Linked DNA regions of Homo sapiens. The protein of the gene in region 2 purifies or fractionates together with the protein of the main gene of each other region. This does not show direct contact. Each region holds a gene or a part of one and is shown on either strand. Other genes may lie near its edges.

What was found.
Region 1: the proteins of PLGRKT (region 2) and FAM204A purify together in Homo sapiens (affinity purification with mass spectrometry; one large-scale study listed by BioGRID and IntAct). This does not show direct contact.

What each region holds. Positions count from the first base shown.
Region 1 is NC_000010.11:118,328,825-118,332,324, forward strand, and holds part of FAM204A (protein FAM204A), read right to left. Parts: intron 1-3,500.
Region 2 is NC_000009.12:5,427,926-5,431,425, reverse strand, and holds part of PLGRKT (plasminogen receptor (KT)), read left to right. Parts: intron 1-3,500. UniProt on the Homo sapiens protein: Receptor for plasminogen. Regulates urokinase plasminogen activator-dependent and stimulates tissue-type plasminogen activator-dependent cell surface plasminogen activation.

The sequences.
Region 1 (3,500 bases), on a different chromosome or scaffold from region 2:
CTGGTTGTCCCTTAATCACAGTGTTCCTCAAGTTTCTGACTAGCATATTTTTCGTCTTACTTTTTACCCTCCCCAGTAATCTACTCTGTCCTGGAGCTTCAATTACTTTCTATGAGCTGGTTTAGCTCTCTAAATAATTAGAAACACCTGACTTCTCCCCTGTACCAATACCTACATCTCCAGCTACTTGCTAATCATCTTCACACTGAAGGCCTACAAAGGCAAGGTCTTCAATTTCATGATGTCTGTAACAAGCCCAACACTTGCTGCCCTGCTTCTCCTCCTCCTCAGTCACCCTTGATAGAATCCTCAGTTATCTTCAATGCTTCCAACCCCTTGCTCCTATCTGAACTCTATTTTGGCAAAAGTCTCTCATTTCTTCCTTCTGTGCTTCTTCAGGGACACGTGATCCCTTATTTGGAATATTATAACCATCTCCAAACTAGTCTTCTCTTTCTGAAACAGGCATCATGTCATTACCCAGCTTAAAGCATTACTTCATATTCCCTCTGAATAACATCCCACTCCCTTCACAATGGGGTCCCCAGATGCTTTCTCAACCCCATCTTCAGCAATTAAAAAGCTATGCTTTTTAATCTCTGGTCACATTTACCATTTTCCTAATGTTCCCTGTGCCTCTGATGTGCTTCTCTTTGAAAAATATTAATCATCCCTTTAGGCTCACGTCGAATGTTACCTTCTCTATCTACGCAGAGCTCCTCAGCCCTACATTCCTATGACCCCATCACCCTCCCCAAACCCCACACCAGGCTCTCCACTCTGTGCTGTTGCTGTACCTTGTGTCCCTTCAGCACCTAACTTGTCTGACACACTACAGTGAGTTGTGTATTCTCCCCTCTTGAGTCCTATACTCAGTGAGAGCAGGCTGTGTGTCACCGGCTTGGTGTGTCCCAGAATCCAGCCCAGTTCCTTCTACATAGAAGACATTTGTTCAGTCTGTGCTACTGAGCTGATATTCACACTGCCGTCATCCATGTTTGCATTCATAGTGAAAGGACCCCACTCAAACTGGGAACATTTATTACATACCAACTACTCTGAGAAGCTTCCAGAGAATTCACAACTGTAATATTGAAGTAATAATGCCCCTATGGTTAAAAAAAGGTACACGTATTGTACTCATTTATATATACATCTATCCTGGTACTAGAATATATACATTCCTCAAGGGCATGGAGAGTATCTTCTCCATCTTGGGCTCCCAGAGCTTAAAATAGTACCTGCACCTAGAACTTTATTTAATTTTTACTGAAAATAGTTATTTTCTTTAAAAAATGTAAATACAACAGCCTCATTTTCCTGTGCAGAATATTAACCATCGCCTCAAATGTCACTGACACATATTTGTATGTGTCAAAATCTATTTGTATAAAACATTAATATCAAACTACAAGTTTCCTTGCACTACAAATTCTTGCATAGCCTGATACCTCAACTCAGAACTTATCCAATCTCACGCAGGGAAGCAATCAAACTAGACCTGCTCCAACCATTCATCTCAACAACCTGCTCACTAACAGCTTCCATTCTTTTGCCTGTCCATTCCCCCAGCCATTAAGATCATAATCTAAAGGTAATAGCATATTACAGTGGAAAGAGCACAGGACTAGAAGACAGGAGATGTGGTCAAAGCTCTGGGTAAATGACATACTTGACTCATAAGCCTCTGTTTCCTCAAAGATAATAAGAAGACTGGCTTGAATGAGTAACCCTCCTAGAAATAAAAATTCTAGGTTTCTATCACATTTTCAGCTTTGTTTTTAGCCCTTTTCTCTTTCTGACAATTTATTTAAATAAAATGTACTACCTTCTTTTAGCTCTGAAAAACTCCTGGTTCCATGTACACCCAAACTTTGTTTCCATAAGAACTTATTAATATTCCAAATACACTCAAAACACTTAGTAAAACATTCCCATCTCCTTAAAGACTGTAAGTTCACAGCAGCTCACAAAGAGCACAGCTGGCAGGATCAGACCTAGGTTCAGACTAGCTCCTCCACTTATGAACTAAGCAACCCTGAGTGAGTTTCTAAACCTCTGTGGGTTGCAGTTATCTTACACATGCAATAAAATGAGAATAAAACCACATTCTCTGCAAGATTATGATGAGTCAAAGAACATATATATAGAATACCTAGCCACGTTTTTAGAATATAGTAGTCATTCAATAAATAATAAGGTGCTCCTATTATTAAACCTAAATATCAGGATACCATTATTGCAAAAGAGAAGGCTTATCTCTATAAGGCTACAGACTGCATTATACTTCTTCAAGCTCAGACCCAAGTACAAGACCCAAGCATTCCACTTTGTCAGTAAGCAATCTCATGAAATAGAGTCTGAGTATTAAGGCTTTTTGAAAAGTTTTAAGCTGGACTCAAGAGTAGCCTTTATTTGACTTATCTAGAATGTCTTCCATACTATAGGAGTGGCAGGAGGCACAGAGGAGCTACTGATAGCCTGCAGCACCTTGGTGTGCTTCTAAGTTGCCTTTTGGCTAGAATCAAAACATAATTTATGATATATCTCAACACAGACAAACCTAGGAATGGCAATTTGGCCACAGGTGAAAAATTTATCTAAACGAAGTATCTAACCCACGAGGCAACAATTGCCAATTAATTAAGTTTTAATATAGATGTCAAGAAGACAGGACTACAAATATCTAAGAAATGTATGGGTACTTGGTTTAACATTGTGGGCTAACATCTATATGTGCATATGTAGAATATCTTTTATATGTGGTTAAAGCTTTTAAAGTCAAACTATACCACAATATATTTATATGAAAATTCTGCTATTAAATATTTATTCTGTTAATATATTCAATTTTTAAAGCTTAACACAAATGAATTATCCATTGAAGTTTGCATTACTGAACCTAAATATCTAGGAAAAAATGAGGCAATCTCTTCATAAAGAAAGGCAGTGGAGGGGCGGAAGAGGTACTTTCATACATAAATGTAAATCATATATTTATTCATAATTTTGTTACCTTTATATATATATATATATATATAATCATACCCACTTAAAATCAATTGAGTCGGCTGGGTGTGATGGCTCATGCCTATAATTCCAGCACTTTGGGAGGCCAAGGCAGGCGGATCACAAGGTCAGGAGTTTGAGACCAGCCTGGCCAATATGGTGAATCCCCATCTCTACTAAAAATACAAAAATTAGCTGGGCATGATGGCGCACACCTCTAGTCCCAGCTACAGGAAGCTGAGGTAGAAGAATGGTTTGCACCTGGGAAGTGGAGGATGCAGTGAGCTGAGATTGCACCACTGCATTCCAGCCTGGGCAACAGAGCAAGACTCTGTTTCAGAAAAAAAAAAAAAAAATCATATGAGTCAGGTAAATAAAAACCAGGTTCAGAAAAAATCTAGATTTGGGACCAAATGACTTGGGTTTAAAGTCTCATTTCACTTCTCACCTGGTTTGTTTTCTTAGGCAAATTATGCTGAGCTTCAGTTTCT
Region 2 (3,500 bases):
AGTAGCTGGGATTGCAGGCATGCACCACCACTCCCGGCTAATTTTTGTATTTTTAATAGAGACAAGGTTTCACCATGTTGGCCAGGCTGGTCTCGAACTCCTGGCCTCAAATGATCTACTGGCCTCAGCCTCCCAAATTGCTGGAATTACAGGTATGTGTGCCTGGCCCACAAGGGTCTTTATAAGAGAAAGAAGGAAGCATGAGAGTCAGTATAAGAGAGATTTGAAGATGCTACACTGCTGGCTTTGAAGATTGTTTAAGGATCATGAGTCAAGGAATTCAGGAAGCCCCTAGAGGCTGGAAAAGGCACGGAAACAGATTATTCTTTAGAGCCTCTACAGGGATGCAGTCCTGCCAGCCCATTTTGGACTTCTGAACTTAGAACTGTAAGATAATAGATTGGTGTTGTTTTAAGCCACAGACTTCGTATAATTTGTTACTGCAGCAATAGGAAACTAACATGGAGTGTGAAACCTTAACATTGGATTTAGACGTGGCTGGATAGAAAAGATCAAAGCACTGCAGAAGATTATCTAATTGCCTAATACAGGTTGTAAAAAACATTTTAAAATGTTGCAAGTCAAAAAATCAAGTCTTAAAAGTTTGACCCGAATTATTTTCCTAAGATTTCAGACAAAGATGTCTAGGCCTCTGTGGCCCATTATGGCTCTGGGAGTAGAAAGTCCTCTGGTAAGGCATGTAGCTAGTGGTTAAAAATGAAGACTAAAGCCAGACTGCCTGAGTTTGAATCCCAGTCCCACCCTTGACTAACTGTGTGACTTGTGCCTCAGTCTCCTGATCTGTACACTGGAGGTAATAATATCCCCTTCAAAGGGATGTTTTAAAGATTAAAGATGAAATATATAGAACAATGCCTCAAGTTTTTAGAAAAATGCTTCTCACCTCATAAATATTTGTTGCTGTTGTTACTATTATTGTTTTTAATGACTGACAAGAGTGTCTTATGCAGAATAAATATCTCTTTGGGGACAATGAAACAATTGAAAGAATGGACAACTGAATTATTGTAACAGAGCAGTGACCTAGGCGAGACCAAGTATTAGGTTTACAAATCAGCCAGCTATCCGATGCTTAGCACGTCCTTGTCAAAGACCTTTGGAAACTACAGGGTTTTTACTCTTATGTTGGTCCCCATGAAGTCAGGGTCTGTGAAGGGTCTGGGATTTTACCCTACTTGCAAGCTAACGTGTTAGCCTATTACAGAAGACTGGAGACAACTACATCAGAGTCAGAGGACTTTATTACTCACAGCACAGCAAACAGCATGAGCGTGGTGGTGTTAATTCCCCATGTCCTCCAAAACTCACCGAGGTGACAAAGATGGGCACGGGCGAAATGAGTGCTATGCACTCAGTGGATTTGTGTCACAGTTGAGCAGCGTTGAGCTTAGGGAGCCTACTGCTTTTACAGTGGGCCATGAGCAAGGGGTGGGTTGTGGCAGGGGGAGAGGGTGGGAGCTACTCTCCTCGTAGTTGTTGTGTCCTGGTTGACCCACCCCAAAATGGAGATGTCAGACCTGGGAGTTACAAGCCTCCATGGGTTCATTTTTAACAAGAGCTCAGCAGCAGACCAACGATTGCGTCCCCTTTTTGAAAGGGGTGTGTTATGGGTTGAAATGTGTCTCCTGTCTCCAAATTCATATGTTGAAGCCTTAACCTATAGTACTTCAGAATGTGATCTTGTTTGGAGATAGGGTCTTTACAGAGGTAATCAAGTTAAAATGAGGTCGTTAGAATGGGCCCCAATTCAGTGTGACTGATGGCTTTATGAGAAGAAGAAATTTGGATACAAGACCATACAATTCATACTGGACTATGCATACCGGGACCATACAATGTGAATATGAAGACAGCTGTTTACAAGCCAAGGAAGGGGCCTGGAACAGATGCTTCTCTCACAGCCTTAGTAAGGAACAAACCTTGCAGACACCTTGATTTTAGATTTCTCCCCTTCAGAACAGAGACAATAAATTTCTGTTGCTTAAGCCGTCCAGTTTGTGGTCCTTTGTTATGGCAGCCCCAGCAAACTAATACAGGATGTATTTGGTGCCTGTGCCAAGCAGGTGGTGCTGCTGCACTGGGCAGTGGCCTCACTGGAGCTTCATAGTGATTTTCTTTTCCTCCCTGGGCTTCTATGTTTCTATTAGACCACCTAGAAGGGGTCTGGGAATCCCTGACTGGGGAGTCTGTTTTGGTCACTGTGAGTTTTATAATACAAGCATGTAATACATCAATGTCATTGTACATTTGTATGTAGTGGGTAGGGAGAGTGTTGACACACATCACAGTATCTTGAATTGGCTATAAAGGTCCCTTTAATTTTTTTTTACTCATTGTGAAGTTTGCTTACACTCTATCAGTTGAATTCAGTTACTTTCCCCCACCTAGTCACAATATACATGTGATCAAGCATGATGACTCACACCTGTAATCCCAGCACACTGGGAGACCATGGCAGGATGATTGCTTGAGCCCAAGAATTCAAGACCACCCTGGGCAACATAGTGAGACTTCATCTCCATTTAAAAAATTTAAAAAATTAGCCAGGCATGGTGTTACACAACTATAGTCCCAGCTACACAGGACGCTGAGGTGGGAGGATTGCTTGAGCCCAGGAAGGTCAAGGCTGCAGTGAGCTGTGATCATACCACTGTACTCCAGCCTGGTTGACAGAGCGAGACCCTATCTCAAAAAACCAAAACAATAACAATAAAAGAACAGAGACAAAAGAGTTTAACATAGGTACTTCAAGGGTGGTCGTAATAGTTTCAAGAGATTATGCTGTCTCCAGCTAGGGGAGAGGGGCAGGGAGGGCTTTTTGTCCTTTGGCTCCTCGTCCCAGAATGGGTGCTGCTTCCTGTCCTGTGTTCTCTGGCCTCTGGAGAGAATGGCCACTCAGAGCCATCATTATTTCAGCCTTTGCTGGAGCCACTGCATGGCCTTGCAGTCTTTGGAGCTCTGGGCCACCCCAGTGCTTAGCATACTTGCCTTCCCTGAGACCAAGTAGACTTTGGCACTCGTGTCCAGTCCAACAGAGCCATAAAATTTTGAGTCCTTCCCTGCCCTGAAGTTCCCCAGCATACTTCCCTAAAGCAGAGGGAGTTGGAGGAGAGGCAGGGGAGGATTGGGGACTGGAGGGAGAGAGCCACTCAGTGCCAGTAAGCAAGGCTTTGTATTTACTTTATTTCAAGTGACCTCTGCCACTGGGCTCAACAGACAAGTTTCTGACGCTTTTAGTCTACCCACAGTTCTCTACCCTCATTGTTAACACCATTTATTTCAGCTCTGGGGACCCCTAGATTCAGCAGCCATCGCCACGTCGCCTTGTTTTTTGGCTGGATCGTGGAGCTTGCTGCCCCATTGTCATTGATAACATCCTCCCTTCTCCCACCCCAGAAGGGAGTATGACACAGCCAAAGCACCATTAGGACACCTTGTTTCAACCCTACCTTTTGTTGTTCAACCACATTTAACACATA